7 linked regions of the Homo sapiens genome follow. The protein of the gene in region 2 purifies or fractionates together with the protein of the main gene of each other region. This does not show direct contact. Each region holds a gene or a part of one and is shown on either strand. Other genes may lie near its edges. The genes, in order: SEMA4B, PDCD2, ABHD18, PRDM10, CERK, PRMT3 and ZNF277.

What was found.
Region 1: the proteins of PDCD2 (region 2) and SEMA4B purify together in Homo sapiens (affinity purification with mass spectrometry; one large-scale study listed by BioGRID and IntAct). This does not show direct contact.
Region 3: the proteins of PDCD2 (region 2) and ABHD18 purify together in Homo sapiens (affinity purification with mass spectrometry; one large-scale study listed by BioGRID and IntAct). This does not show direct contact.
Region 4: the proteins of PDCD2 (region 2) and PRDM10 purify together in Homo sapiens (affinity purification with mass spectrometry; one large-scale study listed by BioGRID and IntAct). This does not show direct contact.
Region 5: the proteins of PDCD2 (region 2) and CERK purify together in Homo sapiens (affinity purification with mass spectrometry; one large-scale study listed by BioGRID and IntAct). This does not show direct contact.
Region 6: the proteins of PDCD2 (region 2) and PRMT3 purify together in Homo sapiens (affinity purification with mass spectrometry; one large-scale study listed by BioGRID and IntAct). This does not show direct contact.
Region 7: the proteins of PDCD2 (region 2) and ZNF277 purify together in Homo sapiens (affinity purification with mass spectrometry; one large-scale study listed by BioGRID and IntAct). This does not show direct contact.

The regions. Positions count from the first base shown.
Region 1 is NC_000015.10:90,221,830-90,225,329, reverse strand, and holds part of SEMA4B (semaphorin-4B isoform 1 precursor), read right to left. Parts: intron 1,772-3,500; coding exon 1,590-1,771; intron 1,493-1,589; coding exon 1,342-1,492; intron 363-1,341; coding exon 152-362; intron 49-151; coding exon 1-48. UniProt on the Homo sapiens protein: Inhibits axonal extension by providing local signals to specify territories inaccessible for growing axons.
Region 2 is NC_000006.12:170,578,217-170,581,637, forward strand, and holds part of PDCD2 (programmed cell death protein 2), read right to left. Parts: exon of another isoform or gene 2,873-3,421; intron 1,890-2,872; coding exon 1,786-1,889; intron 755-1,785; coding exon 641-754; exon of another isoform or gene 564-640; intron 441-563; coding exon of another isoform or gene 420-440; exon of another isoform or gene 266-419; intron 1-265.
Region 3 is NC_000004.12:128,027,906-128,031,405, reverse strand, and holds part of ABHD18 (protein ABHD18), read right to left. Parts: intron 2,932-3,500; coding exon 2,553-2,931; intron 897-2,552; coding exon 734-896; coding exon of another isoform or gene 730-733; exon of another isoform or gene 1-729.
Region 4 is NC_000011.10:129,908,836-129,912,335, forward strand, and holds part of PRDM10 (PR domain zinc finger protein 10), read right to left. Parts: intron 3,391-3,500; coding exon 3,250-3,390; intron 1,822-3,249; coding exon 1,641-1,821; intron 1-1,640.
Region 5 is NC_000022.11:46,707,253-46,710,752, forward strand, and holds part of CERK (ceramide kinase), read right to left. Parts: intron 737-3,500; coding exon 591-736; intron 1-590. UniProt on the Homo sapiens protein: Catalyzes specifically the phosphorylation of ceramide to form ceramide 1-phosphate.
Region 6 is NC_000011.10:20,506,216-20,509,715, reverse strand, and holds the end of PRMT3 (protein arginine N-methyltransferase 3), read right to left. Parts: intron 1,413-3,500; coding exon 1,303-1,412; 3' UTR 378-1,302; downstream 1-377. UniProt on the Homo sapiens protein: Protein-arginine N-methyltransferase that catalyzes both the monomethylation and asymmetric dimethylation of the guanidino nitrogens of arginine residues in target proteins, and therefore falls into the group of type I methyltransferases.
Region 7 is NC_000007.14:112,339,195-112,342,694, reverse strand, and holds part of ZNF277 (zinc finger protein 277), read right to left. Parts: intron 2,853-3,500; coding exon 2,810-2,852; intron 1,824-2,809; coding exon 1,649-1,823; intron 1,641-1,648; exon of another isoform or gene 1,573-1,640; intron 135-1,572; coding exon 1-134. UniProt on the Homo sapiens protein: Probable transcription factor. Involved in modulation of cellular senescence; represses transcription of the tumor suppressor gene INK4A/ARF, perhaps acting via the Polycomb group (PcG) complex PRC1.

The sequences.
Region 1 (3,500 bases), on a different chromosome or scaffold from region 2:
TGTGCACCCGGGGGCCCACGCTCACTGCCTTGTGGAGCCGGCCGTCACCTGGGGTGTGGACAGGACTCAGGCCCTGGGTGGAGCCCACTGCCCATGACCCACCAGCCACGTGCACCCCTTCCCCTGAGCCTGCTGGGCTGCAGACACTTACCAGTGCCCAGGAAGAGGACATCGTAGGTGTGGTGCAGGCCAGGGACGCGGTGTACAGCCACGCGCTGGTAGCGAGCCTGGGGCTGCAGCAGCAGCATGCGGCTTCGGACCTGCCCGTCCATCAGGAAGTGGTCCTTGAGGAAGTTCAGCACGCGGTCTGGGAGCTGCAGGGATGAGTTGATCTTCCTTTCCCGGGCACTGTTGGTGATGCACTGGAGGAGAAAGCAGCAGTGTGAGGCCAGCCACACCTCGGGGTGGCAGGCAGGATGCGGGCCCTGCTTCCCCAGTGGACAGTAGCGGTGTCTGTCCCCCCGCCCGGAGCCAGGGCACATCCCTGGCAGTGCTCTACAGAGCCAGTGTGCACATCTGAGGGAGCAAGGACAAAGCCCAGGGTGCGGGGAAACCGAGTGCTTGGAGGGCTTCCTTGCTGTGCCTCCTCCCTGCCCACCACCCCAGCCTCATATGCCCAGGGGCCTCAAGAACCAGGACCACACTCCCTGCTCCTCTGCACCCTTCACCAGTGCTCTCAGGAAGCCCTGGCCGGGCAGAGCGTCCCAGTGCAGTCGGCAGTTCTTTCCTGCCCCGCCTGAGGCTTCCTGAAATTCTGAGAGGTGCTCCACACCATCTGTCAGGGGCTCCAGCAGGACCCAGCTCCAGCTGCCCACAGCAACAACAGCGTGCTGACACACCCTCTTTTGGTTTCCCTCCCTCCTCCTCTCAACCTTCCTATTCCTTCATGCTGCTTCCTGGCATCACCTCCCTAATAAACTATTTGGCACGTATATCCTTGTCTCAAGGTCTGCTATCAGGGTAGCCCGTTAGGCTAGAAGGGAGGAAGAAAGGATTATTTCCCCACAGCTTGCCCATTCAGTCACTTGATAATTAAATAAGGAGCTTGCAGCTGAGTAGGGGAGAGGACCAAATGAAGAGATGATTGTAACAGCCTGCAGCAAGTGCCCTGATGGGGACACACTTGTATCCTGAAACAGAACTGAAGATATTCTGACATTCATACTTATATCTAACCCAGTACACAAGCAGGCCTGGGCCTATATCCCCATATTAAAGATGAGAAAAGAGATTCAGAGAAGCCAAGTGATCTGCCCGAGGCTAGGCAGCCTTGCTCCCAGCATGGTGTGGGGACCCACATCTTCCCGGCACCCCTTCTGGGTGCAGGGAGCCAGTACCCACCGCTCCAGGCCGGGGTGTGGGCACCGGGTGGGTCACGGTGTACCACTGCTGTGTCTCACGGTTCACCTCCTTGTAGAGGCCGCTGAAGACTCTCTGCACATCCTTCATTGTGAAGACACAGACGGCAGAGCCTTCTGTAGTTCCCCTGTGCCTGCAGAGGAAATAACCAGATTAACCCAGGAGCCCTGGGGGCCCCAGTCCCAGCCACCCTTCACCCTTCCATCTCCAGCGAGGTCTGGAGGCCCTACCACTGGGAAGTGAAGACCCCATAGAAAAGGGTGTCACGCCAGTCCTGGGGGCTGGGGCTCAGCGTGAAGACATCCTGCAGCACGTTGAAGGGGAAGCCATCGTCGGGCCGTGAGCACAGCAGCTGGGCCTTGAGGAAGGAGGTCCAGCGCTGCTGTAGCACCCGCTCTCCACCCTCATCGCCCTGGAGGGAGAGTCGGATGGGCTGGGCTTAGGCACATGCTGAGCCATGACGGGGATGCACGGCACAGGACTGCCTCAATGGACCCACCCCAGACACCAGGACTGAAGGGCAGGAGAAGGCCAGGACCAAGTTCCATCTAAAGTCAGGAAGAGCAGTGTACGCATCCATCAGGAGGATGGTCCTTACTGTAACTAAGCAGAGCCTTCCTAAATATGGACGCGATTCACTGCTGAGCAAACAAGGAAGCCAAAGGACCCCAATATAGCCTAATGCCATGTTCCTGAGTGAGTTAATAATATAAGTACAAGGTCGGGATGGTACTTATATTATTAATGCCTATAATTCCAGCACTTTGGGAGGCCAAGGCGGGTGGATCACTTGAGCTCAGGAGTTTGAGACCCTGTCTCTGCTAAAAATACAAAAAAATTAGCTGGGCATGGTGGTGCATGCTGGTAGTCCCAGCTACATGAGGGGCTGAGGTGAGAGGATTGCTTGAGATTGGGCAGCGGAGGTTGCAGTGAAATCTCACCGCTGCACACCAGCCTGGATGACAAAGTGAGACCCTGTCTCAAAAAGGAAAAAAAAAAATGTATATATATATATACACAGAGTTACACATATGCCAAAAAAAAAAAAAAAGATTTGGAGGGGGCATTCTAAAATGATACCAGTGACTCCTTCTTGTGCTGGGGTGGTGGGGTAATAACATTCATAGTTCACATTTAGTCACTGCCCACCACATTTCTAAGAGCTTTGCGTGGATTAATAATTCACATAACAACTCTGAGGTCAGTGTTATTCTTCCTATTTAACAGAAGAGGAAACTGTTAACCGAGGGGGTGAGGGACTTGCCCAAGATCCTAGGCCAGCAGGGTTTGAACTTGGGCAGTTGGCCTCCAGGGTCTGTGCTCTCCAGCTGATGCTACAGTGCCTCTTTAACTTGTAAGTGATTTTTGTGTGTACAGTTTTCTATTTTCACATTTTTTTTTTTGAGACAGTCTTGCTCTGTCACCCAGGCTGGAGTGCAGTGGCACCATCTCGGCTCACTGCAACCTCCACCTCCCAGGTTCAAGCGATTCTCTTGCCACAGCCTCCTGAGTAGCTAGGATTACAGGCGTGCACCACCACGCCCAGCTAACTTTTGTATTATTAGTAGAGATGGGGTTTTACCATGTTGGCCAGGTTGGTCTCAAACTCCTGACCTCAGGTGATCCACCCACCTTGGCCTCCCAAAGTGCTGGGATTACAGGCGTGAGCCACCATGCCCGGCTATTTTCACATTTTTTAAGTAAAAAAAAAAAAAAGAAAAGAAAAAAAATGGCTGGGTGCAGTGGCTCATGCCTGTAATCCCAGCACTTTGGGAAGCCGAGGTGGGTGGATTGTTTGAGCCCAGGAGTTTGAGACCAGCCCAGGCAACGTGGTAAAACCCCATCTCTACAAAAAATACAAAAATTAGCTGGGCATGGGGGCGCACACCTGTAGTCTCAGCTACTCGGGAGGCTGAGGTAGGAGAACTGCTTGAGCCCAGGAGGTCGAGGCTGCAGTGAACCGTGATCGTGCCACTGCACTCCAGCCTGGGTGACAGAGCAAAGATCCTGTCTAAAAATAAAAAGAAAAAAAAAAAAGAAAAAAGTAGTAAGATATTTTAATTTAAAAGGTGAGAGAGAAAAGCTGTTAGCCAAGCTGTACTCCTTGGCGGGATGGGAAAGGCCATGCATGGATGTGGGTG
Region 2 (3,421 bases):
CATTGAGAGCTTTGGCACTAAGAACCAAGCAGAGTTTTGTGTATGGTCCTCATAATTCCTTTTTTACCCAAAGAAACAAACCAATATTAGCTATGACTTTGGTAAGGTTAGTGAATCCATAGCTCAAGAGCATTTCCACCCTACCCAAATGGATTTTGATGCTAACAAATCCTTTTGGGCAGGGAAGGACATTTATCTTTAATGCTTATATCCATTTTTTCTAACAAATCCACAAACCAAGATTAAACAGTAAAGACTCCTCTCATAAAGTATATAGTCAAAGACTTTAATTACTAGAACAAGAAAGGAAGGTATACATTATTTAAAATAACAAAAGTTAACAGAGGCACTAATAATAATGACATAACCACACTGGAGGTGGAGAGCAGTGTAGATATCCTCATTGTCACAGAAGTCAGTCAATAGACCGTGTCTGAAAACTAGGAAACAGAAAAAAACAAGACAGTTCCTTCCAGGGAACTAGCCCCAAGGTGAGGCAGGAAACTGATGATTTTCATTATAGGGTACCCTTCCATACTGCCATGTTGACCCATGTGCACAAATTACCTTGGTGAAGTTTTTAATGTTTAAAAACAATCATGGTGATTACACACTAAATGGTCCTTATTTAAGGTCATACCTGGAATTCCAATATTCTCTTGGCACCACAGGGGCAATCTGGAATATCCTTTTCTTGAGGAATATTTTCACCAGAAATCCAGATGGGGGCAATACCTCTGCCATATCTAAGAATCTAAAATCAATGAAGATCATGTTCAAATAATCAATACCTTACCTATAAGTTGCCAATGGTAACATGCTATCTACTCCATGAATGTTCCTACTCTTGATGTAGCACTGACCCAAAAGGCATGTCACAGTTCCCCCATCAGACCTGGCTGTACCAGTGTGCCACTAATGCCTTCTCAATCACCTCAAAGTGATTATTTCAGTTTATCTGACTCAGAGGGCATCAAAATATATCTCCCAGATGATGCTTTTACTACCTAATGTTGGCAACTTAATCCTATGAATATATTGTGAAGGGACTAAGAATGAGCCTCTGCTCTAATTGCAGAATTCTGCCCAGAGTCTGTGCCTACCTTCATAGTTAAAAAATTTTAGGAGGGACAAATACCAAGTGAAACATAGTGTTTTGAAAACTACTACAAACATAAGTAAATTTCACTGTAATAAGCTTCCTACAGCAACTGAGTGGTTTTCTGTATTTTGTCTAAAAGCATATGCATTGCTAAAAACTGCCTTAGTGTTTAAGACCTAGATCTATTCTTCCTGTGTATTTATTTGAACCAGTGACTGGTTTATGGGAGTTTAGTTTTCTTTCGTGATTTACGTTTATGGTAGGGGAGGTTAAGGAGAAAAATGTTAACATGTCACATTTTACAAGCCAAAGTTACCTGTTGGAAATGGGCAAAAATAACCTTTTTTCTTTCTGGCGGGGGGGCCAATGGTGCCTAAACCTCATGTACCTTAGGCAACATCTCATTCATCTCCCATCCCTGATGCTTGCTTTAGAAAATGAACCCTGTATGATAAACAGTATAACCTTTAGTCTTTTAGTAACTATTAAATGGATCAGCACTGCAAAACACCTTTCTACATGGCCCATCTGTGTGAGGAACTCCTCTAACAAGATAACAAAAGCCTGCTTTTATAGGCTCCTAAGGAACAGACTAATGTTACTATGAAGTTATTTCTTACAGATTATACTCATAAAACATGGCCTGAAGAGAACACGATGAGGAGCTATGAGCTCCACTTTACCTGTTCTGGTTCAAGGGCTATCTGAGTTTTAAACTTCTGAAAAATTTTATCTTCCCTGGATTCATGTTTTGCCATGGAATCCAGTTCTTCCTCAAGTGCTTCACCTGAAAAATCAACGTAACTATTATGAAAAACAGGAGTAATCCCCACAACTTGACAATTCACACATGGAGAGGGGACCCACTTTTAATCAGATAGCTTTCCCTATTTATTCACTCATTCAAGTTGGACCATCTGAATTTCCAGGTACTCCATCCAACTCTATTATATGGACTTCCATTTAGTGCATCTCCTTAAAGCTTCAAAATAACAGAATGGTCAAGGGCTTAGGACTGCCCAGCACATCACAGGACACCCAACAAATGTGAGCCCTTATCATTAGTATCCTCAGCTGGTAGGCTCACTCACTCAGTCATCAAGTGTTCATTTCTGGCCTGGAGCAGTGGCTCACGCCTGTAATCCCAGTACTTTGGGAGGCCGAGGCGGGCAGATCACCTGAGGTCAGGAGTTCAAGACCAGCCTGGCCAACATGGTGAAATCCCGTATCTACTAAAAATATAAAAATTAGCCAGACGTGGTGGTAGGTGCCTGTAATCCCAGCTACTCGGGAGGCTGAGGCAGGAGAGTCACTTGAACCTGGGAGGCAGAGGCTGCAGTGAACCGAGATGGTGACATTGCACTCCAGCCTGGGCGACAGAGTGAGACTCCGTCTCAAAAAAAAAAATGTTCATTTCCTTCTCCACATTCCTTCCTGGGATTACAGCCACCCTAAGCCACTGCTGTCCCCAACAGACCCGTGTCTCTAAGTATAACCATTAGTCTTTGTAATGTACGTTAAAATAGAACTGATATACCTTGGGTCAGAGAAGCTAAAATAACTGCTTTGATGAAACTGGAAAGGCACTGATGGTGTTCACTTGCACCATCAGGTCTGATGGAGGAAGTGTAGGATGCCTTCAGATTGATGTTCCATCAAGTATACGTGGAAAGTTTCAGTATAACCGTTAGGACACTGTAAATGCTGTTCCCTCAGGCCCTACTGCCTCCTGCCAAGTCTCAGGTAAGACACAGCTACCTCCAGGAAGCATTTTTCTATTCAATTCTCCTTTTATTTTAGAAAATTTTGGACATACAGAAAAGTGGAAATACTATAATGAACCGCCACATATCATTAATCAGTTTCAACACTATCAAGTCCAGTGTTTCCTTTCTCTGCCACTTCCACCTCCATTACTCTGAAGTAAATTCCACACATATCACTTCATTCATAATTAAGTTATGTACCCCTCGAAGGCAAACTCTTTCCTTTTATTTACCAATTTGAAAATGAGTCTGTTCCCAAGTATCCTATAAAGATGATTACTGAGTTTTTTTAAAGTATCATTTTGAACCCATTAAACATATCTGATGCAGTTAGCGTCCTTGTGGATGTTCAAACTGTCCATCTTTTGCAAGCAGGAGCCTTTTCATGTTGCTTGAGTTCTGACATGGCCCTAGTAATCCTTATCCTTAATCTTTGATATGACCATGTTCCCACATTATATGAACGTTTCCTGACCTAGTTCTGGAATCAACCACCTCTCCAAAGAGCCTGGAGTTCCTTTTAGAGAGAAATGGTACGTAGACACAATCAACA
Region 3 (3,500 bases), on a different chromosome or scaffold from region 2:
AGCTCCGCCTCCCGGGTTTTATGCCATTCTCCTGCCTCAGCTTCCCAAGTAGCTGGGACTACAGACATGCACCACCTATGCCCGGCTACTTTTTTTTTTTTTTTTTTGTATTTTTACTAGAGACGGGGTTTCACCGTGTTAGCCAGGATGGCCTTGATCTCCTGACCTCGTGATACACCCGCCTCCGCCTCCCAAAGTGCTGGGATTACAGGCGTAAGCCACCGCGCCCAGCCAGCATAAAAGTTTTTATAAGTTCTAACTAAAATAGTGGAGTCATATAAGGTTGTTCACATTAAAAGCACTTCTTATTTAAGGTTCAATATTCACTTGCTAACTGAAAAACATTGCTAAATTATTCCACAGATGTTCAGGCCATTCTGAAAAAACATCAGAATAGAGTGAAAAAACTCTTGATGCACCAAAGCAACTTTAACAAGCCATGATCTTCCTTCTCACATCCTAAAATACCTGGCCATTAATATTTGAAGAGGGGAAAGCCACACGATAAAGCATGCCTATAATATGCATCATGCTTAGTTCTCTAGAAGAAAATAAGAAGATCAAATTCTAGGAAAGAGGGAAAAGTAACTCTGTGAGATTTGTGGGAGGTGAGGAGGGAATTCAAAGATTGAAACAGACTATAAAAATATGTGATCTTTTACATTTGTTGAAGCAAAAAATCCAGAAAACAAACAACAAATGAACGAATACATGTTTAGACCAGCCGTCTTACCTGAAGAGTCCTTGTTTAAAAAGATAAGCACTAATATGACCCCCTTCTAAGTATCGGATTTCACAACCAGGCCAAATTTCTTGTAAACTTCGAACTCCTGTTCGTGGAATATAGGCATCTTCTTTGGCTTGAACCACTATAATGAGGCTTGGATCAACTGGGACTAGGTATAGGATTTTTAAAAATTCAACATATACACATTAGAAAATAAAAAAACCCACACAATGCAGTAAATAAAACATTCGTCAAACTAAACATTTTTGATTAAATTAAAAATCAACTATAATATGCTACCTTACTCATCTCCAGTACGAGATAAATATTCTAAAAATGATACAAAATACTGTGGTTTTTAAAAATTAACTAATTTATTTCTTTTGTGTGGGTGTGGGTACACAGTAGGTGTATATATTTATGGGTTACATGAGATATTTTGATACGGGCATGCAATGCATAATAATCACATCAGAGTACGTAAGGTATGCATCGCCTCAATCATTTATTTTAAAGATGGGATCTCACTGTATTGCCCAGGCTGAAATGCAGTGGCTATTCATTGGCAAGATCATAGTGCACTACAGCCTTGAACTCCTGGGCTCAAGTGATCCTCCCTCCTTAACTTCCTGAGTAGCTGGGACTACAGGTGAATGCCACCACACTCAGCAATCCAGTGTTTTTCTTTTGGGAGATAAGAGTTTCACTTTGTCACCGAGGCTAGGGTGCAGTGGTGCAATCATAGCTCAGTGCCACCTTGAATTCCTGGGCTCAAGGGATCCTCCTGCCTCAGCCTCTGAGTAGATGGGACTATAAGCATATGCCACCACACCCAGCTAATTTATTTTTGTTTTTGAGATGGAGTCTCACTCTGTCACTCAGGCTGAGTGCAGTGGCATGATCTCTGCTCACTGCAACCTCCACCTCCCGGGTTCAAATGATTCTCCTGCCTCAGCCTCCTGAGTAGCTGGGATTACAGGCACACACCATTACGCCCAACTAATTTTTTATATTTTTGGTAGAGATGAGGTTTCACCATGTTGGCCAGGATGGTCTCAAACTCCTGACCTCAAGTGATCCACCCGCCTTGGCCTCCCAAAGCACTGGGATTACAGGCGTGATCCACTGGGCCCGGCCACCCAGCTAATTTTTACATTTTTGATAAGGACAGGGTCTCACTATGTTGCCCGGGCTGGTGTCAAACTCCTGGGCTCAAGCGGTCCTCCCACCGCAGCCTCCCAAAGTGCTAGGATTATAGGCGTGAGCCACTGTGTCCAGCTCCAGAGTGTGTGAGAGTGTGTGTATGTGTGTTTGTGTGTGTGTGTGAGAGTCTTGCTGTCACCCAGGATGGAGTGCAGTGGTGTGATCTTGGCTCACTGCAACCTCCAACTCCTTGGGCTGAAGCGATCCTTCCACTTCAGCCTCCCAAGTAGCTGGAACTACAGGCTTGCAACACCACACATGACTACTTTTTTGTATTTTTTTTTTTGGTAGAGACAGGGTTTTACCATGTTACCCAGGCTGGTCTTGAACTCCTGGGCTCAAGCAATCCACCTGCCTCAGCCTCCCAAAATGCTGGGATTACAGGCATGAGCAACCACACCCGGCTGTCCAGTGTGTTTCTTAATGAATAAGATAATCTTAAATTTTCATAGATAGAATATGATACATTTAAGTAACCAACTTATCTTTGCAAACATATTCTGGAGCCAACAAAAAAATATACCCTTGAAAATATAAAATTATCTTATAGAGCATCTTTTAAAATATTTCACAAATACTTACACATCAGCAAATATTCTCAATTTCATATAAAAATTAGTACCTGAGAAATTTGCTACATGAGTACATTCATCCATGACTCCTTTCATAAATATTAAAGACTCTTTCCGAAGACTGTTTCTGCTTTGTTCTTTACTAAGTAGGTGGTATGACTGAGGGTTGCGACTTGTATAACCACTTTTGTTGGTTGAAAGTGTTTGATTGAAGCGCTTCATCTTAGAGGTATCTTGCAATAAGAGTCCTTCTGATGTCGCACTGACAGATGTTTTGCTAGAATTATGGCAGTCAGCAGGTTTTTGGGATACAACTTGGTTTGATATATCTAAATTTAAAGTTCTGGAAACCAGATTAAGGTTAGTTAGCTTGTCTGCACTGCTAGTGAAGTGTTTCACAAACTCTTGTCCCATTTTGAAAGAATCTGTCTGAACATATGAAAGGAAAGAAAACATTATTTAATATAAAATAGGGTATTAACAGCTTTGTCAAAAAAAAAAGAGAAAAGACAAATGTCCATCAATGAATAAATGGATAAATAAAATGTAGTATATTCAAACAATTAAACATTATGCAGTCTTAAAAGGAATGAAATTCTGACACATGCCACAACATGGATGAACACTGAAGACATTATCTTAAGTGAATAAGCCAGACACAAAAGGACAAATATTGTATGATTCCACTTGTATGAGGTCCCTATAGTAGTAAAATTCATAGCGATGGAAAGAGAATGGCAGTTGCCAGAGACTGGGAGAAGGGAGGAATGAATAGTTTTGTTCAATGGGTAAGTTTCAGTTTGAGAAGATAAAAATGTTTTGGAGATAGATGGTGGTGATGGTTGCACAACATGTATATACTTAATGCCACTGAACTATGCACTTAAAAATGGTTATGATAGTAAATTTTATGTTGTATATATTTACCATGACTTTTTTAAAAAACAAAGATGTATTAAAATTTAACTCACGACTAAGATAAATGACTTACACTTTAT
Region 4 (3,500 bases), on a different chromosome or scaffold from region 2:
TCTGCCTCAGCCTCCTGAGTAGCTGAGATTACAGGCATCCGCCACCAGACGTGGCTAATTTTTTTTGTGTTTTTAATAGAGATGGGGTTTCACCATGTTGGCCAGGCTGGTCTCAAACTCCTGACCTCAAGTGATCCGCCCACCTCGGCCTCCCAAAGTGCTAGGATTGCAGGCATGAGCCACCACGCCTGGCCCGCTCCACTCTCTTTCACAGGAATTACACTGAGTACAGAGGTCAGTCTATTCACCAGATTCTAGTGGTAAGAGAGTCCCTGACTGGAAACTAGACCCAGCCCTCAATGTGACGTCCAATGTTTAAGAGTATAGTTTGTGGCCGGGCACAGTGGCTCATGCCTGTAATTCCAGCACTTTGAGAGGCTGAAGTGGGCGGATCACCTGAGGTCCGGAGTTCGAGATCAGCCTGGCAAACATGGTGAAACCCCGTCTCTACTAAAAATACAAAAATTAGCTGGGCGTGGTGGCGGGTGCCTGTAATCCCAGCTACTCAAGAGGCTGAGGCAGGAGAATCACTTGAACCCGGGAGGCGGAGGTTGCAGTGAGCCGCGATTGTGCCACTGCACTCCAGCCTGGGTGACAGAGCGAGACCCCATCTCAAAAAAAAAAAAAGAATATTGATTGTAAAAATAACTAGACGGTAGAGTTTGAGCCTGACTCCATAGCAAATCTATGTAACATAGCCAAGGATCAATCATGACAAAGACGGGCCCCCAAAAATAAATCAACAGTAGAAGAAAGATCAATACCGACCCTTTCCCTTCTCAGCACCTCTTCCTCCTAGTTTCTACTACTGAGGTCTGTTAAAGTCTACTCCTATTCCTTCCACACCTTCCATGAGAAAGGTCTCATACTTCCTGGCCTGCCCCAAAGCTGTTTCCCCACCAAGGGGTTTACCTGCCCCGACCTCTGTCAGCCAGCCTGCTACTGTTTCCACAGCACGAATCTCAGGGCTTTGGAATCAACGACTCTTCTATCTCCCTCCTTTACTAGATGATGGTCAGCTGCACAGTGGGGTGGTTTAGAGTGGACACTCTGAAGCCAAACTGCCTGGGTTCCAATCCTCTGTTTACTAGCTCTTGGAAAAGTGAGTGTGTGGAAATTGCCTTATCTGTAAAATGCAAATAACAATTGTACTTATCTTATAGGTTGTTGTGAATACTGACTGTGATATATATGGTTCGGAATCATTCCTGGCAATGTAGTAAGAGCTTAATGAAAGCTGGTTAACATTATTATTGTGTGGTGTTACCGATACTAATGAGAATATTAATCTTGGCATAGCCAGTGTCTAGTACAGCGATTGATAGACAGGCATTCTACAAATATTGGTGGAAGGGATGACTCAACATAAGCTATATCCAACTATCTTACTATTTAATTTCATAGCTACATTTCCTCCAGCAATATACCTGACGTTTCGAAAATGTCCTATCAGGGTAGCTCTGTGAAAGCGGAATGCTACACCTTGAGTTTTGTCATGAAACCCATTGAAGTACATTCATAGAGAGTGTAAACAATGGCCAAGAGATACTTTAAAAATCTATCACAAGCTGAAGAAATTATGACACATGGCTGGAGATCCCCCACCCCTGACCGACACGGCATCGTCCCTTCTTACTTACAATAGCCACGGAAGGAATTCCAAGCACTGGGCAGGTACGTGTGCTGCACAGAGGAATTCTGCTGCTGCTGCTGCTGCTGCTGCAGAGCCTGCCCCTGTGTGGAAGAACTGCCCTGGATGTGGGAGGGGCTGAGCCCCTGCTGAGCCTGCTGGGCTGAGGGACTCAACGGCTGCCCAGATACCTGGGGAGAAAGAGAAAGCAATGGTAGGGAATTACGAGCTTCTAATATAGTGAAGACTCACAAATAACTGAAGGAAGTACACCAGACTCATATGAATTATAATACTGAAACTATCGTTGCTATTTTTTTTTTCTTTTGAGATGGAGTTTCACTCTTATTGCCCAGGCTGGAGTGCAACGGCATGATCTCGGCTCACCGCAACCTCCGCCTCCTGAGTTCAAGTGATTCTCCTGCCTCAGCCTCGCGAGTAGCTAGGATTACAGGCATGTGCCAACCCACCCAGCTAATTTTGTATTTTTAGTAGAGAAGGGGTTTCTCCAGGTTGGTCAGGCTGGTCTCGAACTCCCGACCTCAGGTGATCCACCCGCCTCGGCCTCCCAAAGTGCTGGGATTACAGGCATGAGACACAACGCCTGGCCTATCATTGCTATTATTAAAAGTAATATTTTAAATAAGAATAAACTCAATGAAAAGCAAGCATAACTATGAAATTCTAATTTGCTTTCAAAGGATTCTCTACCAGAGTATGCAAAAAAATTAATTTCAATCAACTGTTGGAAAGATAAATGAAAGAAAATATAATTACCTACATTCTATAAGTTTAAAAATAATGGGAGGTGAAGTAACTTGCCTGTGTCACAAAGCTAATCTGGAACACAAAATGAAATGAAACCCAAAGTTCATCGTTTCCATTCACCAGTACTGGCAAATCCCACCTGGCTGGTGGAGTTCAGCACAGGTGGGTGAAGAGGCCCACTCCTGATAACAGGATGAGGCCAGCGCTCTCCAGCCTGCCACACTGCAATCCTGCTCCAAACTACCCTCCCAACTTCCTTTCCAAACATCATTTCCTGTGAGTAATCTAAACAGAATAACCCTGTTTTCTATAAATGTACATTTTCCATTGCAGCATGAGCTTCTTCAGATCAGACTGCCTTCCCCAACGACTATGTCAGAACTGTACCCCTCCTTCAAGACCTCAAAGACCACTTCTTCTAAAAAATGTCCTGGATTCCCTCCTAAACCTAATCTCTCCCTCTCTGAACTCTGAGAACTTATCTATGTATCTCAATTCCAGACTCAAGCATACAAACACAGTAACATAAAATATACCATAATACTCCAGAAAGCCACTGTTCCAAATCATAGAAGCCACTTAGCCATTGCATTTAGAATGAAAGCAAAGACCACTGTTGTTTCTAGGATGTCGTACCACAGGACTCTATGAGGGCAGAAGCAGCTAACAGCTTAATATGTGTCCACAATGCCAATATAAAAATTGGAGGCAAAGGTAAGATCCTTTAATAAAAATCCAAAAATAACAGTAGCTGAGGAGACTAGGTCTGAAGAGAATGTCTTCCCTCTCATTAACTCTGATAATCCCTGAAGCCATGATAACACCTCCAAATAGTCTGTGGAGCAGGGTACCTGGGCGGAGGACGGGGCCGAGGCGGTAGGCTCGCTGACCTGGATGTGCTGCACCTGGATGGCGTGCTGGGGGTAGGGCTGAGGATCATGGAGCTGGCCAACATCCACAGTGGACTGCTGTGACTGGTGAGGGGAAGTGGCCTGGAAGGAGAAAAAACAGGCCCAGAAACCAGACATATATTGATTGAAGTTAAGGGAAATCCTTCCAGAGAAAAGGTTCAGTTAAAAACAATATCCTGGCCGGGTGCAGT
Region 5 (3,500 bases), on a different chromosome or scaffold from region 2:
AACACACCACGCTCAGGCCCTCAGCTTGACTTAGCTTAACACTGTGATTTTTCAAAGAACAAGGTGGTTCCTAGAAGGATGTTGAATGGACCAAGCCGAACCAGCACTTCAGGACACAGCCCAGCTGTTCCCGGGCTCGGCTAGGTCCTGCCCTTGGTTCCGCCCCCACCTTTCCCACTCAGTCTCCTCCCAACTCCCCAGCCCGATTCCTGCCCACACCCACCCCTAACTCCCGGTTCCTTCAGGTCCAGAAGCCACTTCTTCCAGAACGCACCCCCTGCCAACCTACCCACCTGCTCCCGGGCACCGGGGGTTCCCCACTCCAGGACTGCACCCCCAGCGGTGGGGTTCTCCTGCCTTGCGTGAAGCAGCCTTTGGGGGAGTCGGGCAACTTTCCTTTCCACGAGTGTCTATTTCATTGGGGTCATACTCTCAATGATATCCCCCCAAGAGTGGCCCTAATGTTAGGAAATCTGTACGAACTAAACTGAGTATAATTGGGTTATTAAGTGTCCGAGGTGGCTACTTGTGCAGAACAATTCCTAAGGACGGGAACGAAGAGAACAGAGAATGCCAGGCCGGCTCCATACCTGCGGGAATGATTCCAATCCGGAGGCTACTGGGGACCAGCACAGCCCGGGGGTGGTTCTGGTCGACCCCGGCGCTCCTCTGCGTCCTCCCAATCAGACCGTGCAGCACCTCGCTGAACATACCATCTCCGCCGACACAGACGATGCTGCAGGAGGAACACAGCCGGTCAGGGCTCCTGCAGGTGCGGCCCTCTGAGCGCAGCAGGCCTGAGGCTTCCAGCTTCAGGAGGGGCAGCCTGCACACCTGGCCCTTGGCAGGCATCTAGAAGTGCGGCTCCTGAAATGTCCCTAAGTGATAAGGTCGTGCCTCTGTGCCAGTTGGCCTAGACCACGTGTACAAATAATGAGATTGATGGCAAATACTGGCTTTCCTTCTGTGAGTCTGGAATTTGGGTGGCTAGGCAGAGAATGCCTGCATGCCTGTACCCCCTCAAAAACACTACACTCTGGGTCTCAGGACTCAAGTTTGCGGGGCGGGAAGAGTACACCTGTGCTGCTGCATTTGTGGGAGCAGAGAGGGTGCACTCCAGGTGACCCGCACTGCGGGAGAGGCACAGCAGTCTGCGCGGGGACGTTTCTCCTTTGCTAAGCTGGCTGTGCAGCCTTGCTCTGTCCCGTCAGAAATCTCAGCCGAGAGCACGACTCTAGCTCAGGCAGCAAATCACCAGCCGTGTGGGTGGTCTTGAGGACCCAAGGCAAGAGCAGAGGGGACGGAATAAATGCGGACAAAATGGGGCATGAGACAATCTAAGGAGAGGAGATGGAGAAAGGGGACAGTGGCTGAAGGGAGAAAGGACGGGTTGGTTTCAGGGTGTGCTGTCCTATGCCGGGGGTAACCCACAGGGAACCAACACTGAGGTGGCAGAATGAGAGGTGCAGGCATGGAGACAGACATGTCACTGCAGCCCAGAGGGAAGGCAGAGGACAGGGCTCAGGTTTCCTGGACATCTCTATAGCCTACGGCAGCCCAAGAGCTCTCATCACCCGGGAAGAGAGGGTTGCAGGGGGAAGGTCCGCCGGTAGAGGAGCGGTGTGAGTCGACTAGGGGGTGCAGCCTGAGGGGCCTCCCTCAAGCATGACAGCATCAAGGTGCCTGCCCATTCCCCAGTGGGTCTGTCTGTGCAGGCGCGACCAGTCTCCAGGGCTGGGATCTCTGCCCACCACCCACCACTCAGGCCACCTGCTTTGGGCCCGGCTCCCATGGGAAGGCTCTTTGCCCTTCCCCGTAGCCTACACCTTGCACCGGGGCAGCCTTCCCAGCGGGGCTGTGGTTTCGAGGACAGGGCATCCTTGAATGGGCAGTGTAGCATCTGTGTGTTAGACAGACAGATCACTCAGACAGACAGCTCAGCCGCAGGAAGAGCAGCCCTCACTGGCCAGGCCTCCCAGCCTCCTGCACGGCATGTCCCTGGGTTTGGGGAGAAGGCGTGCCCTCAAGAGGCGAGGCTGATCCCTTGGCTAGGGTGGGTGCAATAAGGTGCCAGCCCCATCCCTGCTGAAAAGTGAAGACGACTGTCTTCCTGCCAAGCTGCTGTCGGGTGGAGGTGGTGGGAAGAAGTACATGGAGGAGCTGCCATCGGGTGGAGTTGGGGAGATGTGCATGGAGGAGCCCCCTGCTTCCTGGAGCCCATGAACAGAACACTCCCGCATTAGGAGGGGAGCAAAGGGGTCTCCCTGTCAGCACCTGGGGGCAGGGGCTCCTTTTATTTCCCTTTCTAACCTTAGCACCAGCAGAGTGCTGGGACCTGGAGGACCCTCAATAATGTTTGTGGAATGAATAATGATTTCAATAAATATCCGCTGCAATTTATAACACATTGCTCACCGACTCCAGATGGAACAGAGAGAAGAAAACAAAAAGCCAACCAATGACAAGGCAATTAACTACAGGGGAATAGCTAAACTCAAGATGAAGAGTGAAATTTTAAGCATAAAGAACAGCACAGAAGAGCTGGACAGACTTGAGTACATGAATTTGAAAACTTCTACTGGGAAGAATTAATGCCATAAGCAAAATTAAAAGACAATTTCAAAATTAGCAAAAATATTTGCAAAAATATGAATATAAATATGAATTGCCTATTATTTGTTGGATAAGAGAACAAATGACTGAAATTATGGCCAACAAAAGAAAATGGGCCAAAGACATAAAAATCAATTCCAAGAAGCCAGCTAGCCAATAAACATATTTCTTAAAATATTAGAGACTTTCACATGTCAAATTAGCAGAGAAATTTTATACTGATAATACCAAACATGTTGACAAAGACAGTAAATAATATACTATAAGAAAGAATGTAAACTGGCCGGGCGCGGTGGCTCATGCCTGTAATCCCAGCACTTTGGGAGGCTGAGGCGGGTCGCGTGGATCACCTGAGGTCAGGAGTTCGAGACCAGCCTGGCCAACATGGCGAAATCCTGTCTCTACTAAAAACACAAAAATTAGCTGGGCGTGGTGTTGGGCACCTATAATCCCAGCTACTCGGGAGGTTGAGGCAGGAGAATCATTTGGACTTGGGAGGCCGAAGCTGCCGAGGTCACGCCATTGCACTCCAGCCTGGGCAACAAGAGCGAAACTCTGCCTCAAAAACGAAAAAAAAAAAAAAGAATGTAAGTTAATAGAATCTCTTTCGAAAGCAATATGGCTGTACACGGCAGAGATTTTAAAATGTTAATCTCCTATGACTAATTTCATTTCTAGGAATTTACCTTAAAAATGTAGATGTATGCAGAGAGATTTATGTACAACAATGCTATCCTAAGAGCAAAAATTGGAAAGAGCCTGAACATCTACAAGTGAGAGGCTAAATAAATATGGCATGCCCACATAATGGACCATGATATGGGCATTAAAAATAGTAGTTCTGGGAAATCTCTAGGAATTTTGGGGAAAAGAAGAATCCCAAACTG
Region 6 (3,500 bases), on a different chromosome or scaffold from region 2:
CTGCCTTGGCCTCCCAAAGTGTTGTGATTATAAGCATGAACCACCATGCCTGGCCCTGTTTTTTACTTTTAATTAATTAACTTTTCTAGAGACAGAGTCTTTCTCTGTTACCCAGGCTGGAGTGCAGTGGCACGATCTTGACTTACTGTAGTTTCCAACTCCTGGACTCAAGCAATCTGCTCACCACAGCTTCCCAAGTAGTTAGGACTACAGGCATGCACCACTATGCCTGGCTAATTTTTTTAAAAGAATTTTTTGTACAGACCTGTGTTGCCTAGGCTGCTCTCAAACTCCTGGGCTTAAGTGATCTTCCTGCCTTGGCCTCCCAAATGCTGGGATTATAGGTATGAGCTACCATACCCTGTTGAAATATTTTATAATGTTGTTTGATATATTTTATTGAAAACTTTTATAATATCAATATTTTTAAAATATTTTATAAGTTGATACATTTTATTAAAATTTTATTCTACATTTCAAATTGAATCAGTAATTGTAAATGACAACTTTATAGACTGCTTAGTAACAGTTACATGTTTAACCTTTGCACATAAATCTGGTTTGAAAAAGATAATACGTTAGTAAATAAGTACATATTTATCCCAATCTTTAAAAACTTTCATGAAACCTAGGATAAATGTATTGAAATTAGATTTCCTGGGCAGTACTAGAAATCTATAAGGCTAAGGAATAGTCACAAAGAGGGAAGAAACTACAAAATGAGAACCCTAAGTATGCTAGATAATCAACTAGGCTGTCTGCATATATGATTTGTATATGAAGGCTGAAGCTCTTTTCCATATTTTAGTTTTTTTATACAAATCTTTATTACATCCTGATTTTCTAGCAAATACAATTAAAAACTCCTCCTCAGAGGAGTCCATAATAAAATGTGTAGTACCTGTGTTACTAGTTTAATAAAATATCCAAATAACTAACCAATTTGTTTAAAATTTATAGTAAGAAACTTATTAAAAACAAAAGACTATCTCTCTTCCAAATATAGGCCAATGTAAATGATTTTCAATATAGATAAACTCAATGTGGGAGTTACATTTGGTTAAATCTGGTGGAGCAAACGTCTAAGAAAATGATTACGTGGCAGACCATGAGGATCAGCTGATTCTCTTCCTCAGCTGAACTATGTCAGATTCCCACAATGAGAACTTCTCTCTTATTGAGGAGGCTCATTAGGAAAGGGTCCATCATCCATCCATCTGCTCACATAAAACCAGCTCCCTCCTGCTGACCCACTCTACCCCCACATTAAAAACTACAAGGTAGTGTGCTTTTATGGCTGTTTCACTGGAGACCATAAGTTTGAGTTGAATTATTCAACGTGAGGGTCACGGTGAGAGAACGTGGATCTTTCTTATTCTTGTGAACTGTGACCTTTCCTTTCAAGGCTTCACCTGTAAAACAAAGGCAAAAATTGTTAAGAATTCAAGGAATACAGTGTAGCAGAAAAGTAAACAATGTATAACTAGCACTTCTTTTTATTGTGATGTTTTCCCACTTTTTAAACTTTATTTAAGGTTAATATTCTTTTTTTTTTTTTTTTTTTTTAAGATGGAGTCTCACTCTGTCACCCAGGCTGGAGTGCGGTGGTGTGATCTCAGCTCACTGCATTCTCCCAGGCTGGAGTGCACTGGTGCAAGCTTGGCTCACTGCAACCTCCGCCTCCTGGGTTCAAGAGATTTTCCTGCCTCAGCTTCCCGAATAGCTGGGACTACAGGCGCATGCCACCATGCCCAGCTAATTTTTTATTTTTAGTAGAGATGGGGTTTCACCATGTTGGCCAGGCTGGTCTCGAACTCCTGACCTCAGGTGATCCACCCGCCTCAGCCTCCCAAAGTGCTGGGAATACAGGAATGAGCCATTGTGCCCAGCCAATATTCATTTTTTAGAGCAGCATTATGTTTCATTAATTTTTTTTTTAAGACAGTCTCTCTCTGTTGCCCAGGCTAGAGTGCAGTGGTACAATCCCAGTTGACTGCAACCTCTGCCTCCCGTGTTCAAGTGATTTCTCCTGCCTCAGCCTCCCAAGTAGCTGGGATTACAGGCATGCGCCACCATGACCTGCTAATTTTGTATTTTTAGTAGAGACAAGGTTTTGCCATTTTGGCCAGGCTGGTCTAGAACTCCTGACCTCAGGTGATGCGCTCACCTACCTCAGCCTCCCAAAGTGCTGGGATTACAGGCGTAAGCCACTGCGCCCAGCCCTGTTTCATTAATTTTTGAATGAAGCGAGAACTAACTACATACCACAGTGTCAAATCCTTGTGAAAGTGAGTAAAACTATTGTGGTCATAAAGGGTCAATGGAAGCATTTTACTGAACTTCTAAATATGAGGCCCTATGGTGGGTTCTGGGCATCTAGAAAAAAGATATGGTCCCTGCCCTCAAAGAGTTTGTGATCAGGGTGAAGAAAAAAGCTATACTAACAATTACACAATAGGCATGTGTCTAAAGTGTGCTGGAGGTGAGCACTGGGGATGGTTGGAAGGCAGTTAAAGGCAAGGTTTCACAAGAATTAATGAATTACCCAATGCCAGGGCTGAAGTCATGGAGAACCAGGCTTAAGGGATGTACATGTAATGGTATTTAAGGAAAACACATACACAGAACCTTCAGGAATGGCATTTTGAGGAACTGAAAATTATAGCTGGGAAAATGTAGAGGCACATGACAAAGCCATTGGCCATTGATGCACTGGTGCTGTAAAAGGGAAACAATGTACCCATGTGAAACAGTGAACACACAAAAATTACTTACCTGTGCAAAGGCTGATTTCCTAAATTCTGTAGGTTCCAAATTTTTATCTATGTACTTTTCTAATTATAAATACTTCTCATTTAATTTTTCATTTATTTTAAAGAGCTGTTTAAAAAGTAACAAATTGCTAAGTTGTAGTTGATCACCATTCTTTGCTTAAATAATATTAAGATAACACCAAACAGTGTCAGGAATAGCTTTAGCATCTGCATGGACACAATGAGGCTCCATATAATGACCAAGGAAATCTACATAAAACTATTGAAGTACTGAATGAATATCGTATTTAAAAAAATACAAATTCCCCATATTCAAGGAAAATTATCTGAATGCTTTTCAAGATGGTAGTGAAATAACACAAGTAAAACATAACCACCTGTTATATTTATTTTCAGAATATAAAGATTCCATTACTGATACCTTCTCTACATCTTTGCAAAAAAGGTGAGACTCACAGTTTAACACATAATTAAGGAGTTAAATAATAGAAGAAATAATGTGGCCCAAGGTGCAATCCATTCAACAAAATATAACAATTTTTGTGTACGTATATATGTTAATGTGTATATTTGGCTTTAGCTTTTATATCTGACCTATTCCTCTATATTAAGAAAATGATATAAAACTATCTCATATGACATGTTCACCAATAGTGGACATAATAAAGATTACCAGTCAGATAGTTCTACAAACTTTATGGAGTTCAGGTTAATCATTAGATAATT
Region 7 (3,500 bases), on a different chromosome or scaffold from region 2:
TCAAAGCATACAGTTTAGATGTATCTTCACTGATGATGGGAACATTTTCATTTTGTTCCTGAGCTGTCAGGTCACTTTCACTGTCAGATAGTGTACACAGGAGAGTGTCATTTTCATAGGTTGGAAAATAATACCTGAAAACAACCACAGATACATAGTATTAAATTACCAAGCTAATACAGTGTCCAGGTAGCTGAATGTACACATTTACTATAATTTTGTCAGGTATCCTTGCCAACAATTTCATAGCATTTTGCAAAGGCTATACTGGAGACAACTTCTGATTGCTTTCACTTTGACTTTTACTGGCTGACATCAACCTTACCAAATCTACTATCCAGATTTGGTAAACCAAGATCGTGGACCTCCCACCCTCCAGAGTTGCCTCTGGAGTTGTCCGCTGGCCACTTAGCCTCTGCTTGATCATCTATCATGATAACAAAACACACTATCTTCGAAGGTAGCTGACCCCAGTAGTGGGTAGATCTAGTTGTTTGATACACCTCCTGTGAAGCTAAAAATGACATCTTTCTCATTTCTACTCAAAGGTCCTAGTTCTTCCTTATAAGTTAACAAACTTCAAATATAGTTAATTTTTCAAACACAAATTATTCAAATAATTGAGAATAATAAGCTCTTCCTTGTGTTTTGTTTTCCAGCCTAATAGTTCCTTCTTTCTAGGTAATCACAAAAGGAAACACTTACGGAATATAAAGTTTGTTATTCTGGTTCCTTCTCTGAATACATTTTGAAGTTACTTTTGGAATATTACAAATTTTAATTTATATAAGAAGGATCATAAAAACAGGGTACCCTCACAAGTGTGGGATTTTCTGAAGGAGAAAAACTAGAACTTTCTGGTTAAAGTTCTGGGGGAACTGACTTAACATTCCCTAAGAACAGAAGGAGCTCTGGGCAGCTAGAACCCCACAGTCTCTCAGAGGAGCCCTCGACTGAGGTTATCCAGAACGATGTGAGAACCAGTCCAGAAGGTTCTTGGCAAAGGATACTTGGGAACCAGTCCACAAAGTTCTGGCAAAGGATACATGGGAATCCAACAACAGATGACCAACTGCTTAATTTTTTCAAGTGCCAATATACAAAATATATACAAAAAGTCCTAGCAGTGTGCAAACTCTGACATAGTAATTTTATTTCTAGGAGTTCAGCTTAATTAAATAATTAGATAAGTGTGCTAAAATGTAGGCATATAGATTCACTGTATCATTATAATAGCAAAAAGTAAGAAACAACCTAAGTATCTCGCAGAATAGATTATATCCATACAATGGATATTTAGCAACCATTAGAAAGGATGCAACAGATGGATACTGGCTATTGAAAGATATTTACAATATTTTGTTAATAAAATATAATTTAAAAAATCTGTATCTACTTCATCTCTCTACATATGTATCTATCTCCATATCACAAATACTGAAAAATACTTGGTTTCATTTGTAAGAGGGGGATTATTTTAAAAATAAGCATTTTGAATATTTTTACATTTTTCCCCACACTGTACTGATGTATACTTTTTATAATAAATATGTATTCCTTTTTTTTCTGTAGGCTTAAAGAAATTAAATAAAGGGACAAAATCAAAGAGTTGGAGTAAGAAGTGCACATTTGGTTTTGCAGTACGTACTCCAGTTGATCCCACGTCTTTCTATCGGGGAGCAGCGAAGTGTGTTTAGTTTCTTCCATGTGAGTTCTTAAGTCTGCTTTGGATTTGAACTTCACATGGCAGCCATAACATCTGCATTGGTGAACTTGCCTCCGAATAAAATTGACCAGTTTCACTTGCTGATAGAAATTTAATCCTGAAAATGACAAAATACAGAATCATTAGACAACTGTTCAGACCCATTTTTTGCACTATTATAATTTCTTAAAGGAGCCACTTATTTTTATTAATCAACCTGAAGAGGCAGTACAATTATAAAGCATAATAATAGATACCAAATAATAACAGCACATATTTACACAGGGCTTATGAGCTAGGCACTATTCTAATAATTTTCCATGTATTAATACATTTAATCTTCATAAAACCCTATCAGATAGGTAGTATCATACCTACATTACATATTAGGAAACTGCCTAGCATCGCATAGATAGCTGTCAGCTGCAAAGCCCATGCTTGACTACTAAGCTAATTATATAAACAATGTATATATATGTCTATAAAAGCAGCAAAGTAACACATCCAAGGACCTAGGAAAGCAGTGACTGAGCTGAGCTGTGAGAAGTAAGTTTTTTACTGTCTTAGATCTATTAGCAAGTCAGTACTTTACGTATGTCTTAATGCCCCAAATCGTTCTATTGTTGTGATACTTAGAATGATACATTGGGTACACCTATAACAAACAATCCTAGCTATACTGCTAAGCAGTGCAGTAGCCATTTACCATACATTATTCACTCCTCATAACATTTTTCTGACCTGAGGCCCAATGTCATAGCCAGTAAGTGCCAGAGCTGGAATCTGAACTCTAGTTTGACTTAAAAATCCATATTCCACTAGCCCCCTCCAATTTATGATATATTATTAACCACTAACTTATATTTCACTTGAAGCACTCATATATGTAGGAAAGAGAAAGAAGGAGTATATGAAACCAAAAACCATATTTGACTATTATGGTTGAGCATCACTGCTTCACAGAGAGTTCTGTCAAGACCATCTATAGAGAGACATGTTTTGGTGGTGCACTCTCCAATCATAGCTACTGAACATAGGCATAGCTTACAGGATGGTTTATAAAAAATGAAGCATCACAGAAAAAAACCTCTGAATCAAACTTACCAAGTTCTGACTTTATTTTGAGAAGATCAAATTCGTGTGCATCCTAAAAAAGGAATGAATACATCTGTAAGCATATGAATTATTTAATCTTTCAGGCTGAAGTTATAAACAACTTATTCACAGGAGTTTGAGTAGTTTAGAAACTCAGTCTGAGTTCGGTATCTTCTGCTTTTGAAGTCTTCCAAGTCTAACTACTTCCCTCCATACCCAACTTTTTTACAGCATAGTCCAAACAAGTCATGTCAATCAGTTAAACCATTATAATTGGGCCGGGCGCGGTGGCTCACGCCTATAATCCCAGCACTTTGGGAGACCGAGGTGGGCGGATCACCCGAGGTCAGGAGTTTGAGACCAGCCTGGCCAACATGGCAAAACCCCGTCTCTACTAAAAATACAAAAATTGGCTGGGTGTGGTGGTGGGTGCCTGTAATCCCAGCTACTCAGAAGGCTGAGGCACGAGAATCGCTTGAACCTAGCAGGCAGAGGTTGCAGTGAGCTGAGATCGTGACACTGCACTCCAGCCTGGGTGACACAGCGAGACTCCATATCAAAGAACAGCAACAACATTATAATTGCTCATAGCTTATATCTATAGTTTTTATAATTTACAATGTTATCCATTTTGTAGCCTTCTAAAAATGTAGAAGTCTATGTATGCATTCTGCAGTGTGATAAAAGTGTAGGTAAGATA